Regions from separate parts of the Homo sapiens genome. Here all the other regions are reported to be linked to region 1. The links are microRNA targets in miRTarBase. Many come from high-throughput screens and were not tested one by one. Region 1 holds a microRNA gene; each other region holds the end of a gene's coding sequence.

Region 1 (3,097 bases):
TGAATTTCTTTTTCTCTAAAAGATACGGAAACTACTCTCTTAAAAAAAGAAAAAATAAAAATTTAAAAAACGTTGTGCAGAAACTTGAGACAATAAGGAGCAGAGTTATATGTGAAATCCAGGTTGCTTAGATAGGAGATTAGCTACATATATTTTTTATTAATGGGAAAAATACTCAGAAAAATTTCATATGGAATGTGACCCTGTGCTTTGTATAAGTAATTAGATATTAGAATGGAAGAGCAAATTTTAGTGCTTTGGTTGTGTACATCACCTTACTATTCTGTAATAGATGTAACTTTAGCATAGTCATTTTAATGATGAGAACATGGGGCAAAAAAGATTGTCCAGGCTTGAATGGTGGCACCACTAGAGTGGTGGCAATTTTCTGATATCTTTTAGAGAAAAGGAATTTCATTTCTACATCTGAGAAAGTGGAAACTAGGAGTTTCTTCCTTACCTGGTAAATGGGCCAGAAACAGGGAATAGGAAGATTAAGAGCTATGGGATTTGTTTTATTTCTCATCTCAGGGTACCAAATTAACTCATCATCCCAAGGATTCATATTTTAGAATTACTTAAGGATTCATATTTTAGAATTACTGTATCAAATGATATCCAACTCTAAGAGAACTTCTAGTATGAAGATCAATGTTGAAAGTAAAATATTTAGATTATTAATAACAAATTATTTAAGGGAGAATTAGTTTGTTTAGAGCTTTTTTTCTTAACTATATTTGGAATTAAAATGTCTTAATTAGATATTTAATAAAATTAACATTTAGAATTAAAGTATTTTTCTTTAAAAGTATATTTGCATTTTGCTAGCTTAAGTTTATTGAAACTGAGCTCTTGTATGTCATTTCATGTTTTTCCCTTGATGTGAAGTCTTACCTATTTGATGAAGATGTCTTTTGAAAGGTGTACTGCAAGGAACAAAATGTTTGTAAATTCTCCTTTTACCAAGGTAAAGATCAAATTTTATAAATTTACTTGTTTGTTTATACAAGGAAAAATAACTTCATATATTGAATATATTCAAAAGTTTAAGCATTTAGTTGTATTGCCCTGTTAAGTTGGCATAGCAAATAAATGCTTTTCTTTTCCTCATTTTATTCTTTGTGTTTCCTAACCTATAGCACTGTGCTGGGCACAGAATGGACTTCAGTTAAGTTTTTGATGTAGAAATGTTTTATTATTCTACTTAAAATCTCCTTAAAAATAATTATGCATATTACATCAATGTTATAATGTTTAAACATAGATTTTTTTACATGCATTCTTTTTTTCCTGAAAGAAAATATTTTTTATATTCTTTAGGCGCGAATGTGTGTTTAAAAAAAATAAAACCTTGGAGTAAAGTAGCAGCACATAATGGTTTGTGGATTTTGAAAAGGTGCAGGCCATATTGTGCTGCCTCAAAAATACAAGGATCTGATCTTCTGAAGAAAATATATTTCTTTTTATTCATAGCTCTTATGATAGCAATGTCAGCAGTGCCTTAGCAGCACGTAAATATTGGCGTTAAGATTCTAAAATTATCTCCAGTATTAACTGTGCTGCTGAAGTAAGGTTGACCATACTCTACAGTTGTGTTTTAATGTATATTAATGTTACTAATGTGTTTTCAGTTTTATTGATAGTCTTTTCAGTATTATTGATAATCTTGTTATTTTTAGTATGATTCTGTAAAAATGAATTAATACTAATTTTTCAGATGTATCATCTCTTAAAATACTGTAATTGCAATTTAATAATTGTATTGAATGCCATCAAGTTTTTTTAAAAAGCTTATGCAGCATTAGAGGAATTTATTTTAATGCACATTTATATTCAACATAGACATTAATTCAGATTTTTACTTGGGATAAAACAAATTCTAGTTTTCCCTTTGTTTTGAAATTACTTTTAAAATATGTCTTTACAGATAAATATAAAATATATTAAGCATTTTGAACAGAGCTTAGAAGACAATATTTAGTACTGTTTCTGAATATTTCTTTATATCTGAAGGGGAAAAGCCATCAAAATATGTGAATTAAATACCTAAAATTCTGGTTGTCAAAACGTCACACTTAACCATAACTTTAAAGGTAGAAAAACCCTTACAAGTGACCAACCCACTCATTGGATAGCTAAGGAAACACAAAACTCAAATAATTTGCTACACATCACAGATTGGGGTCTTAGTCTTATGTCTTCTAACTTTATAATGGTATACTATTTTTTTCATGTTTTTATTAAAATGTTTTCTTAAATCCTTAGCCAAAGATTTTTGTTTGATAAGTCAAAAATAAGGTCTTGTTTACTTTGTTTACTTTTTTGTATTCAAGATTTAACTCAGAGTAAGACCAAATTATCATTGTAGTTTTATTGATATAAAATGTCAACATAATTTAATTTTTTTTTTTACTTTTTTGTATTTTTAAAATTTTTTATTAAAAATAAAAGTAGACAGCCAGGTGCGGTGGCTCACGCACTTTGGGAAGCCGAGGCAGGCGGATCACCAGGTCAGGAGATCAAGACCATCCTGGCTAACACGGTGAAACCCCATCTCTATTAAAAATACAAAAAAAATAGCCAGGCGTGGTGGCGGGCGCCTGTAGTCCCAGCTACTCGGGAGGCTGAGGCAGGAGAATGGCATGAACCTGGGAGGCGGAGCTTCCAGTGAGCTGAGATCGCACCACTGCACTCCAGCCTGGGTGACAGAGGGAGACTCTGTCTCAACAAAAAAAAAAAAAGAAAAGAAAAGTAGAGCTGGGCACAGTGGCTCAAGCCTGTAATCCCAGCACTTTGGGAGGCCGAGGAGGGTGGATGACGTGAGGTCAGGAGTTCGAGACCAACCTGACCGACATGGTGAAACCCCATCTCTACTAAAAATACAAAAAATTAGCCGGGCGTGGTGGCACATGCCTGTAGTCCCAGCTACTCGGGAGACTAAAGCAGGAGAATTGTTTGAACCGGGGAGGCGGAGGTTGTAATGAGCCCAGATCGCGCCATTGCAATCCAGCCTGGACAACAAGAGTGAAACTCCATCTCAAAAAAATAAATTAAAATGTAAAAATTAAAACTAAATAAATAAATAAAAATAGAGACA
Region 2 (3,097 bases), not on the chromosome of region 1:
CCCTTCCTGCAGCACCAGATCCCCCTGAGCCGGTACTGCTGCCTCCACCTGGGCCAAGACTAGTCTTGGTGTTCACCCTTCTTCGTGCTTCAGAAAGTAGGGATATCTGGGGACATGACTGTGTTTCCCTGGGGTCCTTTCAGAAGAGACTTAGGAAGCTCCTGCTCAGGAATCTGGCCCTCTGAAAGAGCCCCTTCAAAGCAGCCTGGGCAGCAGGTAACGTGGTTTCCCTTGCGGCCCCCTCCTCCCAGCTGCATAGACTCGTGGTTTGAAGTGAACAGATCTTGTCCGGAACACCCTGCGGACTGACCTGCGGGCTTGCTTGCTGACTCCTCTCAAAGGTGAGCCCGCGTTTGGGGGTGCTCCGGGCTCAAGGCTTGGGGTCAGGTCACTTTGGGGGCCTGCAGTTTAGGGAGCCGGGCTGCCCTTATGCCACTGAGAAGAAAGCAGGAGCAGAGGGAAGGAGCACCTCATCAGTGAGCAGTTAGTCATCCGGAAATGATTTTCCCTGGGAAGGACAAGAGATACAAACCAACATGGACAGTTATGAAGAACAGGCTCAGAAGAGTTAGGATCAGTTGGGGAAGAGACCAGTACAATCTACATTCCTAAAGAAAGTTCAGGAATATCCCCTGGGAATGTGCACGGGCAGGAAAAGGAGCCTGAGCGGTGGGTTTGTGCCTGGCTTGGCCTCATCCTCGCTCACCTCTGAGTCTCCGCCTCTTCTATGGTAACGGGGATAATCTCACTCCCTGTTGCCATAAGGACATTGCACTTACTAAACAGCCATGGGCAGTGCATTGTTCCCTGCAAAGTGCTGGTCAGCGATCATTTGACCACTGCTTCTTCCCATGCCGCTTCCAGATGAATCTGAGGCCTCCAGGCCAGACTCGATCCCTCTATCCCACAGCACTGGGTGCTGACTCCACACATCCCCCTGGCTTACCGCTGGGTCTGGCCTCCCCATTTCTCCCCCAGGGGTACCCCACTTGCTGCCAACCATCCACCCCTGACCCCCATCTCACCTGTCCCCTCCAAGTTCTGGGCTGGCATTTTCCTTTTTCTGGCAAACAAGTAGACAAAACCCCCATAAAAACCAAAAGCCCAACTCCATCTCACAGCCAAAGGTTTTGGGACCTTTTTCTTCCCCCCTCCCTTTCTCTCTCTCTTGCTTTCGTTTTCTTTTGTTAGGTTTATTTTATTTATTCCAAGTAAACTCCCAGAACAGCTGATGATGTCAGACAAATCAGGGACATTTGCTCTTTTTACCTCCACCTCAAAAACTGATGACAAGGGGAGAAGAAAGAGCCAGGGGGGAGAGTGAGGCAGGGGAGTAGAACCTGCCCAGGCACATGGCTGCAAATTCCCCGTGTGCTGTTTGGCTTCTGGGGTCCTGTGTAGACGCCCCAGCCCCGCCTGCCCTCTTGGGATGCAGCTGCCCTGGGATGAGCAGACAGCCCTCGGCCCGATGGAGCACGACTTATTTATTACGGTCCACACAGGGACAGAGCGCCCCTGCTCCAGGGAGGAGGCTCACCGGACCCTGGGGCAGAGCTGAGCTTGGGACACCAGCGGGAACAGGGCACCCCTTCTGCACTGACTTCCAGATCATGGTTCTCCCTTCCTCCCTGAGGACACCAAATTGGATGAGAGCAAGTTTGAGAGAAGAATGAATCAACTGCTATCCTTCCCCTCACCCCTCAGCCCAGGAGGGAAAGGGCATTTTCTTTTTCATCTTTGAAAGGCATTGTGGGTCTGTCTTTAAAGTGTTTACAAAAAAAAATTATATAAAAAAAAAGTCTAGTGTCGACTGGTGTTTTCCCTCGTGATGTTTACAGCTTGCTGTTTGCTGCCCAGCCATAACCCACTCAGTGACAGACGAACACAGCTAAGGCCTCGCTGCCAGCCTTCTGACGGCGGGCGAGCACACGGTCTCTTCCCCTGCCCCAACTGGCCCTCTCCACCACCAACTTCTCTACTTTGGGTTTGTTTGGTTTTTTCCCTCTATTTTTCTGGCTGGTTTTTTGCTCTTTTCTCCCCTTGAGACCCTAATATCTTGACTTCATTGCCAAAAAACAACCCATTGAGAACTTTCTTCCTACTGATCCCATCTCTTTTCCCTTCTTTCCTCCTGGTTCCGGTCAGTTCAGAGGATTTAACAATCACAAGTGTCCTGCAAAAATGCCTGAACATTATTCTTAGGCCCTCGTGGATTTTTTTTTTCAGAAAACTTAAACAAAAAAAGACTTACTAAGAAATATGTACAGCTACCCCTGTTTTCAGGCACTATGTTTGAGAACATTTTAGCCATTGATGTTCACACGTGGCATCAGCCCATGCAAGATAGGTTTCTGTATTTATATATTAAAATACAAAAAAAAACTTATAAAATGTTTAAAAAAATGTTCAAAGCTTGGGAGAAAAGCTTTCTTCATTAGTCAAGGTGTTTTGATATGGTATTAAAATGTCTAATAAAAGATGGCACTGCGTGATTTTATTTTAATGAAGTGTTATACAATCAAGAAATGGGGGCAAGGGCCTGCCCCCCACTCCCTCACCTACCTCCTTAGCATTCCTTCAGGCTGCTACTCGGGGCTCCAGGTGTGTGAATTGGTCCTCAGATAGTCAGGCCTGGGTGGAGGGAGTGGCAAGTCAGGCGTGCCTCCTACAAGCTTCCTAACCTCTTAAGCATCATGGAACCAGTCAGCCCTCTGTGGAGTCATTGTGCTGGACCTCTGAAAAGATCTGCAGGGGCCAAGATGTTGCAGCCACCGGAGGCTGCAAGGATGTGGGTTCTTCCAGGTGTGGGCCCAGCCCCCCTCCTTCCAGCCTTTGCTCCCCATCCCACGTTCCACTCGCCCTGCCTGTTGTTCAGTTTGCGTCTCAGTGCTGACTCACGGGCATGCTTCATTGAGGCCCAGGAAGAGGCCCTGGTTTGGGGCTGTGCCAGCTCAGAGCCCTTGAACCAGAACCAACTGCTCAGGCTCACAAAAGTTGGCAAAATGCGGGCTGGGCAGGCAGCTCGGGGCAGGGAGCAGCAGTGCAGGCCTGGCCTGTGTCCCCGTGCCCAGCGGGCTCCCGGAGCAGCATTCCAGAG
Region 3 (3,097 bases), not on the chromosome of region 1:
GCTGACAATATTTAGTCCCAACCTAAGACGTAAGTTCTTGTCCCTTAATACTGAAACCCAGCTTAAATAAGCAGATAAGCGAGGTAGAGTGGGTTAATATTAGTCACTGGAAAACTTCTATGTAGAAAATGCTATAAACATAAATGTGTGAGGCACAGAAAATCTTTATTGCCACAGGAAGCAAGTGCATTCGTCCCACCTCACCAACAGCTTGAAGAGTCACAAAAACGTGGACATCGCACAATAAAGTGTAAGAGACTCGGGGAGAAATGGTCCCTTGGACTATATTGGCTGTAATACTGAGGTAACCAATTGACCTTGTTCAGTGAAAATACCTCTAACAAAATGAAAAAATCAACTAATTATAACTTCCAATTCACATATACAATTCAAATAAAAATATATATTATTTGCTTTAATGTATAGCAAGTTTAATACATTAGTGTTTACAAAATAAAAACTGTATTCTACTGAAATTTTTCTTGTGCTTCCACCTTATCACTAAGCTTGAAAGACTAGAAACATAAGATAGTTAAGGAAACTTATTATGAATTTAAAGATGCAATCTGTGGGTCCACAACGAATGGATAAATATTGGAAGTTGGAAGATTACTGCATCTTTTAAAATTGTGGCTTATGAAAATCTACAAACTTGACTGTAAGACACAATTAAAAAAAAACAAAATGTTTCAAAATAGATTAGAATACAGGAAACGTTTCATGAAACTACTGAGATATACTAACCAGTGCTATGGCTAATATTAAAAACTGAACAGTCTATTGAAATCGTACTCATACTATTTCTACACACAGTGAACAATACAACCACAATAATCAACCTCAAGCTAGCAACAAAGTTGCAAGGTCCATAAGAAGCTTCTTCAGTGAGCAAAACACTATGGTACAATTAAAACATTTAGGAAGGGGAAAAAAGCCTTTTAACAGTATAAAAGTTGTTTACTGGCGTTTCCTACTGTAAAGTACTTCTACAAATTAAAATGAAGAAGCAATTTATATACGTGACAGTGATCTGAGACTACAGTGCAGACATTTCATCTAACATTTGGCTGACAAATTTTAGTGTAACAGATTATGACTTAATATTTTTTACAATTATGATCTAGAGCAGAACTAAAAACAAAAAAACACATACTCTCTTACACTCAGAGTCAATACACTCTTCTCAGTAATATCTGGGTTTAGATGCATCTGTAGGAAGTAGGTAAAGCTGTCAGTTATCTTCTCTTAAACCAACAGAAAAAACGTATATTGGCAGATGTATGTTGTTTTACCATTATGAATTCCAATGTGAAATTCTCATAAGTATGCAAGTAAATTATTAACATGTAAGCACACTCCCATATATATGCACATGGTCCATTAATTAAATTGGGGGAACTAAAAACATACTGTCAAGTTAAAATAAATTTTAAGAAAAAACTGCATTCATAAATCTCAAAGGTGTAGAAAAATGAAATTGTAAAATAAATAATGAATATAGCTGTCAATTAAACTTCCATAGAAATATGCCTACAGATGTGGATGCAGTGATTGTCCACATTTGTGATGGCTGGGTGGGAAGACATTCCCTAGTGAAAGCATCTAGTCTCTCTGACTTCTCTACATAGAGAAGACTTTCTGGATATAAAATAGTACTTAATCTGTTACAGCCTTTGTTAACAGTCGCCATCTTTATAACATGTAGGGTTAACTTACTGTGTCTTAATCTATTTAACACATTCTGAAATATCAATGTTTAAGTCAAAGCTTTTATACATGGGTCCACTTATTTCAAGTTCTCTGTCCAAGCAATAGCTTCCTATCTTTGAAACATCTTAAGTAGCTATTAATACAATCTAGGTCAACTAGTTTAAGATATATTTTCTACTCTATTGCTCATCTTTTTAACTTTCCTCCACTCAAGTATTTATTGTGTAAACGTGCATTGATAACCAGATGTTATATGACTGAATGCTAAAAATTTCCTGTTAAACAAAATCAGTTTTATCAAATATTAAATCCACAATATTTTCCTTGGCTTAAACTGAGTATTCGCTTTCTATTTTTCCATAATCATTGCAATCTTGCCAATAACTGCATCACTTAAGCTTTCTTTTTCACAACTGCAGGCAGATTCTAAACTCTGACATATATTTACGTTAAACACACAAAGTAGACAACAAAATTTCAAGTAAAATAAACTGTATCCACATCTATTAGACCAAACAGGTCTCAACATCTAGATTTTACTTCTATAAATTACACAAATACATTGTACATTCTTAAATAATGAATGCTTACAATATTGATTTGTAAGCCTTTCCATATAAAATGACTTAACACAGGAATGTGAATGAATCAATATTACTGTTATAGATTGCAACACTCTTGATTTTCTCTTTTGTGGCTGTTGTTTTATCTTCCTGGTTTCCACAGACTACCGTACCAGTCCTTTTGCTTTGGCTATGAAATCTGTTTGAGCTGAATGAGGCAACACTGGTTATTAAGGCTTATTTCTATGATGGAGTATTATCCTTAAATCTGATGCCATTTCCAGAGAACGGTGAGAGAAATCACAGCTATCTTGAATCTTCAGGCTCTGTTTTGATGACTTTCTTTTCTAAGGTAAAAGCTGAATGAGGGTAGTCTTTTAAAATCCCAAGGCTCTCTACATAAAAATGGAAACAAAGTGAGTTGATATTTTAATCAATGGACTACAAAAATCAAACAAAGTTTTAAAACAAACCCCCAAACTCCATATCAAATAGTATCAACTATTCATGATTCTGTAATTCCATGCAAAATTTTTGTTCATAGAGCTGTTAAGAGCTTGGATTCTGGATTTAAATTTCAACTCTGCCAATTACTAGATGTATACATATAGTATACATATATGTATAGATGTATACATCTCTGGGCAAGTTATACACCTCTCTAAGCCTTAATGTCTTCATTTATAAAATAGGAATAGTATCTACATAAAGTGGCACGAAAGTTAAATAATGAAATGCACATAAAACATTTAGCATATAGAATATATTAATTTTTATTTAATGCTTGATCCAACATGATAAATATATAAAAGGAAGCTGATTAT
Region 4 (3,097 bases), not on the chromosome of region 1:
CTCCCAATATTTTGGTCATTTTTTCTGTTCAAACAAGAAACAAAAATGAAGAGGCAGAAATTTTTTTTATATCCTCTCAGTGTGATACCTATCTATTTTAAATAAATTAGTAGTATAATGTGGAAGGGGCCTGGTAGTGTAGCACACAGTTCAAACCAAGTATACCATACTCCTTTCTCAGTGTTATTCTTTGATCTCAAACTACAACAAAATTCTTTTTAGAAATGAAAACTTCCTTAATCTAAACCACCTCATCAGTATAGAAATACCAGAGACAATATTTTTGGTCAGAATGAACAAGCATTTGTACCAGAAGCTGAGAAGTCAAACCATGAGAGGCAGGTGATTATATGAAAAGCCTGGTTGTGAGGTCCATGAATTAAAACATCTTAAATTTATACAGCGATTTCCCTTGTACAGTTCAACTCTCTAAGGCAGGCTGAGTAAATATTAATGCCCATTTCACCTATAGGGAAACAGATGCACTACTGCTTATGTACGTCAGTTCATGAAAAGCAGAACTCTGAGTCAGGCTTATTTATGGCTGCCTCATCATGTTCTGTTCCTCAGATATAAAAATTAAAATGAACAAACAAACAACAACCACAACAAAAACAACGGCCTAGCACAGTAGCTCATGCCTGTGTAATCCCAGCACTTTGCGAGGCCAAGGTGGGTCGACTACTTGAGCCCAGGAGTTTGGGACCAGCCTGAGCAACATGGCAAGACCCTGTCTCTAAAAAAAAAAAATAGAAAAATTAGCCAGGCATGATGGTGCATGCCTTTAGTCCTTAGCTACTCGGGAGGCTGAGGGAGGAGGATCACTTGAGCCTAGGAGGTCGAGGTTGCAGTGATCTGTGATCCCAGCACTGCACTACAGCCTGGGCCACAGAGCAAGACCCCATCTCAAGAAAAAGTAGTAATAATAATAATAATTTCGATTAAAACTGACCTTGGAAATAATGTAACATAAAAATTATTTTGAAAATAGCCTTTGGTTATAATTTTCAGTGTAACTGTTAATATGACAAAAGTTTTGAAGACTATTTTTTTTAAATGGCTTGTTAAACTGAGTTGGATAGTTGGATTAAGCATTTTCTTAACAATTAATACACCAGGGTGCTAATTATTTTAGAAGGCTCTTCTGTTAGGGTTTATAATTCATCATGTCATACCATACAACTTGTACTATATTAGCCTTTCTTCTATTGATTCATGTCAGCTGACACTAACATAAACCTTTTTGTGACAAGTTAATTAAATTACCATTCATTACCATCCAACTTAAATATAGTTATCTTGACAGTTATAGCAGAGCTGCCAAAAGAGAGAAACAAACTCTTCTAAACTTTATAATAATTAGTGAAAATTTCATATTAGTGAAATAAAAAGGATAGTTCTCATCTGTTTGGCTTCATAAGTCTTCTATTCTCTTTCCAAAGTTTTACATTTCCTATCAGTTACTTTCCTAATGTCATACTAATTTTAAATTCCGTCTTTTCTCCTGTAGAGCCCTTTTAAAGGTGTTCTAGAAAAACTACTAATCAACTTCAAGGTTTATTGAACTTTTGTGTTTTAACATTTAAAATACAATAGAAATGTTTATATTTTCTCACATTTTACTGCACAATACAAAACTGATTTAAATGCATTAAGAAACAACATTTTGTTTTTAAATAAACACTAACAAAATGTTTGGCAAGAGATAACACAATTTATTTAAATATATTCCGACTCAAGATGAAGGCAAGCGGTTTACCTAGAAAGGTTTACATATTTTAGCTATAGTTTTTCATTGAACCATTTTTTTGAAATGTCATTCTTTTCATTCATGCTTCTTTTATCCTCTTGCTTTAGAAGTTCACAGTGTTATATAAGTGAAAAACAAGACAGATAGAAACCACCCTAAACATATGGCTTTATGTACATAAAAAATTCAATAATGTTGCCATAACCCCTAATACAGTGTGATCCTTATTTATTTATTATCCAGAATAAACTTCTGTACCTATTAAATTCTTCAAGTATATCTAGAGCAGTGCTTGTAAAAGTGAGGTCCCACTGCTAAGTTAATGGCCATCTCTTTGAAGATCACTTCTACCTTCAACATAATTATGGTACAGTTCTAATAGTTTTTTTAATTTTACATGTATCATACATTCTCAAATATTCCAAAATGCTCAAATGAGCCAAACATATACTTTGATTTACATCTAGTTTAATATTCCCTTTATACAGCACCAGAGGTTAAAAATGGATCTGAGTAACCAAATATTCTCTTTCCTTTATTAGTTAGAGTTTATCATCATTTATTTCTATAACATTAAACCCAAATTGAAGATGAAGACACCCTGGGTCAAATGCTTTCACCTTAAATAAATAAACATTTCATCCACTTCATACTTAAATACCAAGTTGTTTTCCTATAACATATGTTTCTTGGTAACAACTACTGAATCAACTAAGCTGAACACCAACTTCTTATCTTTGAGGACTAGGCAAGTCGGATAGGATTCTCTAGGTTTGCTTTAAAACTTTTAAGAAACCTGGTTGCCAGTTCGTCATCAACCACTCGACTGTCACTTGACATTGTGACTGTTATGAGCTGGCGCTGCTGCAGTTTGGCATTTCCCTCTTCATCCTCAGTGAGCTTCAGCACAGGTCGGAACCTCCCAACCGCCAAAATGCAGGCCTGAGGAGGGTTAATCACTGCAGTAAATTCGTCGATGCCAAACATCCCCAAGTTGGAAATACTAGGGGGAAAAGAAAAAGCTCTGAAGGAGGCATGTCCTTAATCAAAGTCCCCTTTCCGTGAAGCACATATTTTATATATTTTACTAGGCAGTGTAGTAAGGCAAGAAAAAAATATATGAGTAATGAAAAAAGGAAACATTTAGTATTTACAAATAAATTAATTGTGTACACAGGAAAAATGAGACTATAGATAACTAGTAAAATTAATAAGTAAATTTAGTTAAGTCATCAGATAAAAGGTCAATATAACAATCCATTTTATATCGAGTCATGTCCCACATAACGAAGGATCACATATACAACGGTGGTCTTATAAGATTATAATGGAGCTCAGGAATTTCTG
Region 5 (3,097 bases), not on the chromosome of region 1:
CGCACCACTGCACTCTAGCCTGGGCGACAGAGTGAGACTCCGTCTCCAAAAAAAAAAAAAAAAAAAAAGATTTATTACTAACTTTTAAAAAATTGCAAAGCAAGGAGTCCACAGAACATAATTAAAGAATTTGGTCTTTTTCTGTATGTTGAAAGAGGGTGATGAAGGCTAAAGAGAAGGCTAATATTTATCATTGTTTGCTTTATAGCTATTTGATCGGCTGAAACTTCAAGATTCCTCCAAGAAGGAAGCAGATTCTAAGTCTGCAGTTGAAGATTCCACTCTGTCTAGATACTCACAGACATCCACTTGGAAGTTGGCTTCAGTGTGGGGAAGAGCAGACACTGGCCGGGGCTCACACAAGCGTTCCCGCTCTGTCCCTTCTTCCCTGCAGGCCTCTGCAAGGGAGGAGTCCAGGTCAGAGCTGTCAGGGAGGACTACACGGACAGACGGCTCCAGTGTGGGAGGTACCTTTTCCAGGGCTACCACCCTTTCCAGAGGCCAGTCCCGTAAGAAAAAGCGAAAGCCCAAAGTGGATTACCAGCAGGTATTCACTCGACACATAAATCAGATTTTCATTCGAGGCGAGAATGTCCTGCTGGTTCATCTTGCACAGTGACCAGCTCAGCCTGAGCTTTGGTTTTTAGAAATAAAGTGCATGAATTGCTGCTATGCTGTATCCTAGTATCCCAGTGAAACTCTGAGTTGGAATGATTCCCTCTGGTCCTGCATATGCAGAGGACGGAGCAGGCTCAGCCCCCTGGAAGATGAGCTCAAGGGGAGGACAGGCCTTGGGAGGGCAGGCGTTTGCATTAATATCAAGGCAAAAAGCATTCATAGATACATGCATCTGATTTGGTATTGTGATTTACTTCAGACCCTGAAACCAAATATCTGATCTTCCATTAGACTTAGGGGTCATGATATGAGTGGAATTTACATTTTAGATACTATAGGGGAAAGAAAAGTCTCAAAAAGAAGTATTGCATGTCTAAAAGCTAGTGCCCTGAGTACTCATGAATTCGATTCCAAGAGTAGTGGTGTAAATTGCCTTGGAGCCCTGCATCCACGTCTTGTAACTAACTTTTGAATTTTGCCTGACATGATTCTCTCTTGATGAAGAAATGACATATATTATCTTTGAATATCTACAAGGAAAGTTACCAACTTATGTAGGGGTGAAATTTGGATAGGCGGTATGCTCAAAGCAGCCAGCAATGAGTGCTCTGTTTTGATCCTTCTTCTTATTATGGAAAGGAGTACAGGACCTCTTCAGTCTTCCCCTTACCAGAGGTAGCCTCTGCAAATGGCATACCAGATGGGACTCTAAGATGCTTGTGTGGTGGCTTCTTGTCCTTCTCTTTGACTTCTGTGGCATGGTGCTAGTGCATGTACCCTGTGGTATTGCCCCTCTGTCCGTAGTGTGAACTGTCCTGTGAGCTTTATGTCAGGAGACTGTGACCTTCATGTCCAGCTTCAAAGAGTTGTGCATGAACTCGGTAATACACATCACACGGCTGAGAGTCCCCTTTCCAGGCAGGGCCAGCATGTGTAGAATATCTTTCAGAATATGGTTTCACCATGAAACAGGGGTGGTAGATTTATTCCCTTGTGTCAGGCCAAAGAAGTTCTTACAAAGTACAGTGGGTAGTGTCTAAAGCGACACTTTACTCACAGCCTGGCTTGAGTCAACAGGAACACCATAGCACCCACAAATACTTCTACTTGAATCATATTCTGTGCTTTTTCAATCACTAGTGCAGAATAGGCTGCATTTGACACAGACTGTTAGGCAATATTGATTTTTTTGTTTTGTTTTTATTTGGTTTTATCTGAGATAACTTATGTTCAAGGTGAGAATAAGAAATAGCCAACTAGTTAAAATGTATGAAAAGAAAACTTTCCCCTGCTGTATTTGTTGTGTAACATAAATAAGCCTTCTGAGAAGCAGGGTGAATAAAGTTTAGGGAGCTGGGACACCTGGTCCTGCTAGCTGGACCACTGGCTCATCATGCAATGAAAAGGTGAGCAGACTTAACCCCTCCGTGCCTCAGCTTTTTCCCCACAGACACCTACCTCACAGGGGCATTGAGAAAAAAAAAATGAAGGCATTTTACAGTCTCTAAACATCTTTAAGTGCCATGAGTAATTTTTCCTGACTCTGTTTCATAGCTTTGTAAGAATTCTGTGTCTTTATAAGACACAGAAGCAAGGCAGGTGCTACATAAAAAAGTAATCTCAGCCAGGCACGGTGGCTCACGCCTGTAATCCCAGCACTTTGGGAGGCTGAGGCGGGTGGATCACAAGGTCAGGAGATCAAGACCATCCTGGCTAACACGGTGAAACCCTGTCTCTACTAAAAATACAAAAATTAGCCGGGCGTGGTGGCGGGCGCCTGTAGTCCCAGCTACGTGGGTGGCTGAGGCAGGAGAATGGGGTGAACCCGGGAGGCGGAGCTTGCAGTGAGCCAAGATTGCACCACTGTACTCCAGCCTGGGCGACAGAGCAAGACTCTGTCTCAAAAAAAGGAAAAAAAAAAAAAGTAATCTTAGGGTTCATAGTTATGATCCTGTTGTAACTATCTTCGGAAGGCAGCAGTATCTTCTGGAACTTCCATATTCCATTCCTTCCTCCTAAGGGACAATGGAAGTTCTCAGAAGAGTATCTTCAGTAAGAGGAGAGTAACTTTTTTTTTGCTGCTCCCGCTATATCCCAGGCCTCACCCTTTTCTGATCATTATCAGAAAGAATCCCCTGAACTTTTCAAGGGGTTTATATGGTAGCACCAAATGGAGAATGAGCATCTAAAAATGACACATCCCGAAAGGGCAATCTGTGGAAGTTTGTTGTTTGTTTGTTTTTATTTTTAAATGCATTGTAAAGTGTACTCTAGAGCCAGATCAGGTGCACTAAAGTTTATAGAGGTTCCAGTTTACAAACTCAAGTGAACAGTAATCTTTGGAAGCTGCCAGTCTAAATTCTAAATAGTGTATCTGAAATCTCAGTTCCCAAAATAGTTGTCAGGTTTAATCATCAGGCAACACTGCGTATACCTGTGTGGCTATCCTCATCTGCCTGCCCTCTCATCCCTCGGCTAG
Region 6 (3,000 bases), not on the chromosome of region 1:
GGAGATCCTGGGAGCCCCAAAGGCTCACATGGCAGCGACGATGGAGAAGAGCCCCAAGAGTGAAGTTGTGATCACCACAGTCCCTCTGGTCAGTGAGATTCAGTTGATGGCTGCTACAGGGGGTACCGAGCTCTCCTGCTACCGCTGCATCATCCCCTTTGCTGTGGTTGTCTTCATCGCCGGCATCGTGGTCACCGCGGTGGCTTACAGCTTCAATTCCCATGGGTCTATTATCTCCATCTTTGGCCTGGTTGTTCTGTCATCTGGACTTTTTTTACTAGCCTCCAGTGCCTTGTGCTGGAAAGTGAGACAAAGGAGCAAGAAAGCCAAGAGACGGGAGAGTCAAACAGCTCTCGTGGCAAATCAGAGAAGCTTGTTTGCTTGAGACTGAATACGACCAAATGGGCCATTGGGCCTGGAAAACGTGCTCTGACTTTGTCACCCAATTCACCCAGAACCATGGTGGGAGAGAACAGACTTGGCGTTGGAGCAGACTGGAAGAATGGGGGTGGGAGGGTGGAGGGGCTTCTCCTTTGTGAGGAATGACTCATGTCTTCTTTAACGACAAACTTAACCCTAAGGGCTACTTCTGAGACTGAAAAATCAGCTTTCTATTTACATGAAACACTTTGGGGGTCATGGGAGTGCACAGCATTAGACAGTATTTGGTTCACCCTGTAAAGTAGCCAAGAAAAGATGAGAAAAATCAAGATAGGCCTGGCACACTAGACATTTGCCTCCAAAAGAAATAACCTACAGTCTTAAGATGTATCATAAAAATGTTCTGCCAAGGATCTAAATTACCTTGGGTTTCGCATATGTCTATGAAATTCTGTGATAATTTTTTTCAATACATTGATTCACTGGCGTCTGTTTTCATTTTATACTTTTAATAACTCATCACTGGTGGTACTTTATCTTGAAAAGTAATATTTTTTATATTTTAACATTGGACAGTGTTAGCCAGTTGTAATGATGTATCAGAAGTAAAGAAAAACCCATTAAAGTTATAGCTAATAGATGCTGTTGGGGGTTAAATTAATAGTAAAATAATCCAATATAGCACTTTTGATGATTTTTATATAAAAGTCAACTGTACATTTCATTCAGAATAATAAATACTTATTGCTGCTAAAACTTCTTAAATGGTTGTTTCTGCTATAGTTATTTCTATTGCAGTTCCAAATTGCCATCTTCCCTTGTCTCATTTGCAAGTTCTCAATTGTATTTCTCTCAAATGGACAGGTTCCTTCTTTACTGGAGGATTTTTGTTTTTATCATATTGGTTTTTCATTACTTCTGAATAGTCTTAATTACGTTTACTAAATTCTAAAGGATTTCTGTGCTATTATAATTAGGAAATCAACGTCTTTGGTCAGGAACTTTATAATGTGCTATTAAATGTATATTACATTTTTGTGGAATCAGTTGTTAATTATTTGCTTAACACGTATGCCAGCACCAACTATATGCCAGGCATAATGTAGATTCTCAGGTTTCTTACTCAGTTAGATCTAATACAATGCAAATAAAGTTACTGCTTGAATTCTTCAGTGGACATTGAGCTAGTCCACAGCTAGGACTCTACCCTGTAACTCCAGCCAGAAATACAGCTCATTCATGTAGTTTAAACCACCTTAAGCTAGAATCGAAAGATAGGCATGAAGGTTTCTTAAAACTTGGAAAACAAAATCAGCCTAGCATAGCACACTCATTGAAAGTCTTTCTGTCCAGAAATTTAATTAAACATGACAGGAGCCCTGGGGCCCTTACTACTCCCTCATGCTCAGGTAGTTTTGGTAAGTGGAAACACCCTAAAAATGACTTTGCAGGTCAGATGGTGTCACGTACAGATCAACATTCCTCCCAACCAAATGCAAGTTTAGGGGGCTGTGCTCATTTCAATGCAAGTGAGTCTGTGCCTTCACATGCCTCTTCTCCGTGCAAAGATACTCAAAGCCCACCCCCCACCCCGCCACCGCATTGCTGTATTAAGAAATTACTCAGACAAGGTTCAAGATTCTCCAGTCTGATCCAAAAGGACGTATCCAGTTTTCATACTCACTCTAATCCCCAAACCTCCTTATGAGTTAGCCAGAATAGACTATTCACCATTCTTGCACCCGACTTTGGTTTTCCTGCCTCCATGTCTGTCCAAACTTGTGTTTTCCCTCGCTTATAGTGCCATTGTTTCCTTGATTTTAATCTCCCCAAATCCTGCTTCTCATCAGCACTCAGCTCAAATGCTACCTCTTCCCGGAAGTCTTCCCTTTTATCTGAAAGTAAATGCCCTTTCGTGAGTTCATCTTTTATTCTCTGATGGCATCTTTTATTTTCTGTCGTGTTGGTGGCATAAGTTTTATCCTTATTCCAAAGCTCCTTAGAAGTGTGTGATAGATCCTCTTTTTAACCCTAGTGAAATGCCTAACATAATGGCTTACGGAGATTAAGTACTCAATAAGTACCTAATTAAGGTGCTAAATGAGCCAAAAAATAAAAAATCAGAAAGTGAATGGTTTATCCAGAATTATAGTCCATTCTAATCTCGTTAAAGAAAAAAGTTTAGTTCTCATTTTTCCCCCAAAGAGGCCATCTCACTCTCTATTACACCTCCACTGTAAGCAGCAGTTGGAGGCGAATATTTACTCTCTATTCTTCTCTAGCCTGACCTGGCCTTCAAAATGCTTGAAAAGCAAACTCATGAATTATTTCCGGCCACCAGGGGGCCCCATGCAGCTACTTGAGTCCCAGAAGAAACAGTTCTATGGAAAGACCTAAATTGTAATAACCAAAATGGGATCAAATCTCTCCTAAACGTGAGGAGTTGGTGGAGATTCTCCATTTATCCCACCCTTACACACTTCCCTAAGCCACTTCACAGTGGCTATCTTGGGGTTCTGTTAGTACGGGAAAGACTTGCTCCATTTAGGGAGCTTCTAGTCACATTAAAAGGTATATACTGTTACATAGCTGCACGGCGCAGAGATAGTTCTACACACT
Region 7 (3,097 bases), not on the chromosome of region 1:
CCCACACCCTCCAGGAAGTTCAGGTCGCCATCATAAACAACTCTATGTGCAACCACCTCTTCCTCAAGTACAGTTTCCGCAAGGACATCTTTGGAGACATGGTTTGTGCTGGCAATGCCCAAGGCGGGAAGGATGCCTGCTTCGTGAGTGTCCTTGCCACCACTCCCAGCCCAGGAAAGCATCCTGTGTCCCTGTGCCTTATTTGACCCTCATGCCAACCCCGGGAGGTGGAGACTGTTGCCCCACTCTGCAGATGCAGAAACGGAGGCTTGGCTGCTGCCAGGGGGAGGAGGAGGATGTGCACCCAGTCTACCCAGCCCCATAGCCCTTCCCACTCTCAGCCCCTCCCCTGCCCCACTCACTCTGCCCCAGGCTGACCTCAGCCCCGCTGCTCCCCAGGGTGACTCAGGTGGACCCTTGGCCTGTAACAAGAATGGACTGTGGTATCAGATTGGAGTCGTGAGCTGGGGAGTGGGCTGTGGTCGGCCCAATCGGCCCGGTGTCTACACCAATATCAGCCACCACTTTGAGTGGATCCAGAAGCTGATGGCCCAGAGTGGCATGTCCCAGCCAGACCCCTCCTGGCCGCTACTCTTTTTCCCTCTTCTCTGGGCTCTCCCACTCCTGGGGCCGGTCTGAGCCTACCTGAGCCCATGCAGCCTGGGGCCACTGCCAAGTCAGGCCCTGGTTCTCTTCTGTCTTGTTTGGTAATAAACACATTCCAGTTGATGCCTTGCAGGGCATTCTTCAAAAGCAGTGGCTTCATGGACAGCTCATTCTCTCTTGTGCAGACAGCCTGTCTGTGCCCCTGGCTCACACCCACATCTGTTCTGCACCATAGAACCATCTGGTTATTTCGATCAGAAAGAGAATTGTGTGTTGCCCAGGCTGGTCTTGAACGCCTAGGGTGGTCTCGATCCTCCCGCCTCACCCTCCTGAGTAGCTGAAATTATAGACGCACATCATGCTCAGCAATGGAACAGGAGTAGTTCCAGGGTGCCAGGAGCTGGGAAGCCTGGATTGGGGGTGTGTGCATTGGAGGAAACAATCCTGACATCCCTCACCCCACAAGGATCCGGCACAGAAACGCCAGACATCCTGATCTTACTATGGTTCCCCCAAGGCTGACCTAGGACCAGGACATAGGTGCAGGTAGTTTATCTGGGAGGGGATTGCAGGAAATGGGGAAACCGAGGCAGGGAAGGAAGGAACACCAATGAGCTTACACAAACATAGAGGGTACCATTCTAGGCAACTGGGGTGCAATCCTGTGGGGGCCTCAGCGTTGGCCCACTGAGGACAAGGACACCACGGTGGGCGTTTCTCTCTTGACCACTCCCCCCACCATGTTGAGAGTAGTTCTGGGGCACGGGATGCCTCAGAGCTGGGGCAGCCCCGAGGTGAGGCTCTGAGCACCCAGAAAGTAGGCAATAATGGTTCCCCTTGTGGGACTCCAGCTGGCTCCAAGTTCGAAAATCATGGTCCTCCCTTAGCGATGTTTTTATTTTTTTATTTTTATTTTTGCAGTTTATTGCATAAAGGAATTACACTAGTTCAAGTTAAAAGCAGACCTCAAATGGTTAAATTAGACAAACTGTGAGGTTTTAAAACTTGTAACAAGGGAAAGAAGGGAAATTCTACTCATTACAGGGAAATCCTCACTTAAGTTTCAGTGAGCCACAAGTAGTTAAAACCCTTGAACCATCAGCAGATCGTCCTTAGCCAGTCCCACCTCTACAAGGAACTGGCATATGTTCTTGCGCTGGTCACCCTGTAGCTGAATGACTTCTCCATATTCTGGATGCTCAATTACCGTCCCATTGCAGGGAAATTTCCTCTTAAATGCCTTCACTAGTTGCTTTTTATTGTAATCCTTAGTGATCGCTTAGACAGTGCTAAGGGTTTTCCTGTCATTTCTCTGTTAAATCCTTGCATGGATGTATTCCTCAGTGCCTGCAGGGAGCAGGTCATCACTCTTACTTAAATCAGCAAAGGGGTGGAAGAGTGGAGATTCTGGACAGTGGACATACGAGATGACTCCTTTTCCTCAGTGGAAACGGGCAAAACTCGGGCCAAGGCGCCAACAGCCACAGATTTCCAGCCAGAAAAACAACACCCCAGAGATCCTGTAACATTACGAAGGCTTTGGAATGTCATATTTAAATTGTTTATAGATCAGTTTTATCATCTACCTGTAGACTATATTGGACCCTAAATTCTAAGTTCCTCCAATCCAGTTTTCTCCTACGGAATTATTAAAACTGGAAGCTGCTCTTTCATAAATGCCCTGCGAGCTAAAACAAAACAACTTAACATAAATATCAAGGGACAAGTATTGTGCCTGATGTGTGGACCGCACAGAGTTCACCAACCATCCAAGGCCATAACCAGAGACATTTTAACTGCAAAATTGCCGGCTTCATACTGCAGCTTTTCCCAAGACCATCAAAACGAGATTCCGTATCATGGTGGTCCACTTACCTCTCTTAATGCGCACCTTTCTCCCTTGACAGGATAATGTGTAATTAAAATTTTACAGCCAGTAACTGCTTTGGGTAACTTAACAGAACTGGACCTAAAAACATGCTTCACTCCACCTAGTGGGTAACTTTGGCGATATCGCTAACACAACTTGTTCAAATTGTACTAGTGGTCCCTTTTATAGAGTTGGCCCTGTTTTCTGCTTTATTTCAACCCAGTCATGAAATGCTACTTAATGGCTACAATAGCTTTCAGCCAGTTTGCCTGTCATCCTTTTTTTTTTTTTTTTTTTTTTTTGAGACAGAGTCTCACTCTGTCACCCAGGCTGGAGTGCAATGGCACGATCTCAGCTCACTGCAACCTCCGCCTCCCTGGTTCAAGCAATTATCCTGCCTCAGCCTCCTGAGTAGCTGGGAGTGCCATCATGCCCAGCTACTTTTGTAATTTTTAGTAGAGACGGGGTTTCACTATGTTGGCCAGGCTGGTCTCAAACTCCTGACCTCTCGATCCACCCGCCTCGGCCTCCCAAAGTGCTAGGATTACAGGCGTGAACCACCATACCTGGCCTAGTTTTTTGTTTGCTTTTCGTTTGTTTGTTTGTTTGCTTTTGTTTTTT

The links. The annotated mature microRNA hsa-miR-15a-5p reads UAGCAGCACAUAAUGGUUUGUG and lies in region 1 at 1,363-1,384, shown strand. An mRNA with a match to its seed (bases 2 to 7 or 8) in the 3' UTR can be bound and repressed. Matches are read on the target gene's strand: a 7mer-m8 pairs with bases 2 to 8, a 7mer-A1 pairs with bases 2 to 7 and ends in A, and an 8mer does both.
Region 2: miRTarBase lists ZNRF1 as a target of hsa-miR-15a-5p. Seed matches in the 3' UTR shown: 7mer-A1 at 2,582-2,588.
Region 3: miRTarBase lists NAB1 as a target of hsa-miR-15a-5p. The part of its 3' UTR that is shown has no 7-base or 8-base seed match.
Region 4: miRTarBase lists PDHX as a target of hsa-miR-15a-5p. The part of its 3' UTR that is shown has no 7-base or 8-base seed match.
Region 5: miRTarBase lists LSM11 as a target of hsa-miR-15a-5p. Seed matches in the 3' UTR shown: 8mer at 665-672 and 7mer-m8 at 2,695-2,701.
Region 6: miRTarBase lists TMEM100 as a target of hsa-miR-15a-5p. Seed matches in the 3' UTR shown: 8mer at 1,127-1,134.
Region 7: miRTarBase lists PRSS21 as a target of hsa-miR-15a-5p. The part of its 3' UTR that is shown has no 7-base or 8-base seed match.

What each region holds. Positions count from the first base shown.
Region 1 is chr13:50,047,454-50,050,550 of GRCh38, reverse strand. MIR15A (microRNA 15a) reads left to right here and starts at 1,350; the gene lies at 1,350-1,432. DLEU2 (deleted in lymphocytic leukemia 2) reads left to right here. Exons shown (of 14, transcript NR_152566.1): 6 at 889-967. MIR16-1 (microRNA 16-1) reads left to right here and starts at 1,490; the gene lies at 1,490-1,578.
Region 2 is chr16:75,106,231-75,109,327 of GRCh38, forward strand. ZNRF1 (zinc and ring finger 1) reads left to right here. Exons shown (of 5, transcript NM_032268.5): 4 at 252-341; 5 at 1,503-3,097. The coding sequence ends at 309. Among named protein-coding and RNA genes, the nearest start is that of LDHD, 9.0 kb to the right of the region's middle. RefSeq lists enhancers at 1,436-1,605, 2,800-2,949, 2,980-3,059.
Region 3 is chr2:190,689,816-190,692,912 of GRCh38, reverse strand. NAB1 (NGFI-A binding protein 1) reads right to left here. Exons shown (of 10, transcript NM_005966.4): 10 at 147-2,668. The coding sequence ends at 2,580. Among named protein-coding and RNA genes, the nearest start is that of NAB1, 42 kb to the right of the region's middle.
Region 4 is chr11:34,994,570-34,997,666 of GRCh38, reverse strand. PDHX (pyruvate dehydrogenase complex component X) reads right to left here. Exons shown (of 11, transcript NM_003477.3): 11 at 1,539-2,753. The coding sequence ends at 2,495. Among named protein-coding and RNA genes, the nearest start is that of MIR1343, 54 kb to the right of the region's middle.
Region 5 is chr5:157,754,646-157,757,742 of GRCh38, forward strand. It overlaps LSM11 (LSM11, U7 small nuclear RNA associated), which reads left to right. Exons shown (of 4, transcript NM_173491.4): 4 at 209-3,097. The coding sequence ends at 619. Among named protein-coding and RNA genes, the nearest start is that of LSM11, 12 kb to the left of the region's middle.
Region 6 is chr17:55,718,051-55,721,050 of GRCh38, reverse strand. It overlaps TMEM100 (transmembrane protein 100), which reads left to right. Exons shown (of 2, transcript NM_018286.3): 2 at 1-1,424. The coding sequence ends at 385. Among named protein-coding and RNA genes, the nearest start is that of TMEM100, 3.3 kb to the left of the region's middle.
Region 7 is chr16:2,820,967-2,824,063 of GRCh38, forward strand. It overlaps PRSS21 (serine protease 21), which reads left to right. Exons shown (of 6, transcript NM_006799.4): 5 at 1-143; 6 at 400-753. The coding sequence ends at 639. It also overlaps the pseudogene EIF1P4. Among named protein-coding and RNA genes, the nearest start is that of PRSS21, 5.3 kb to the left of the region's middle. RefSeq lists an enhancer at 1-67.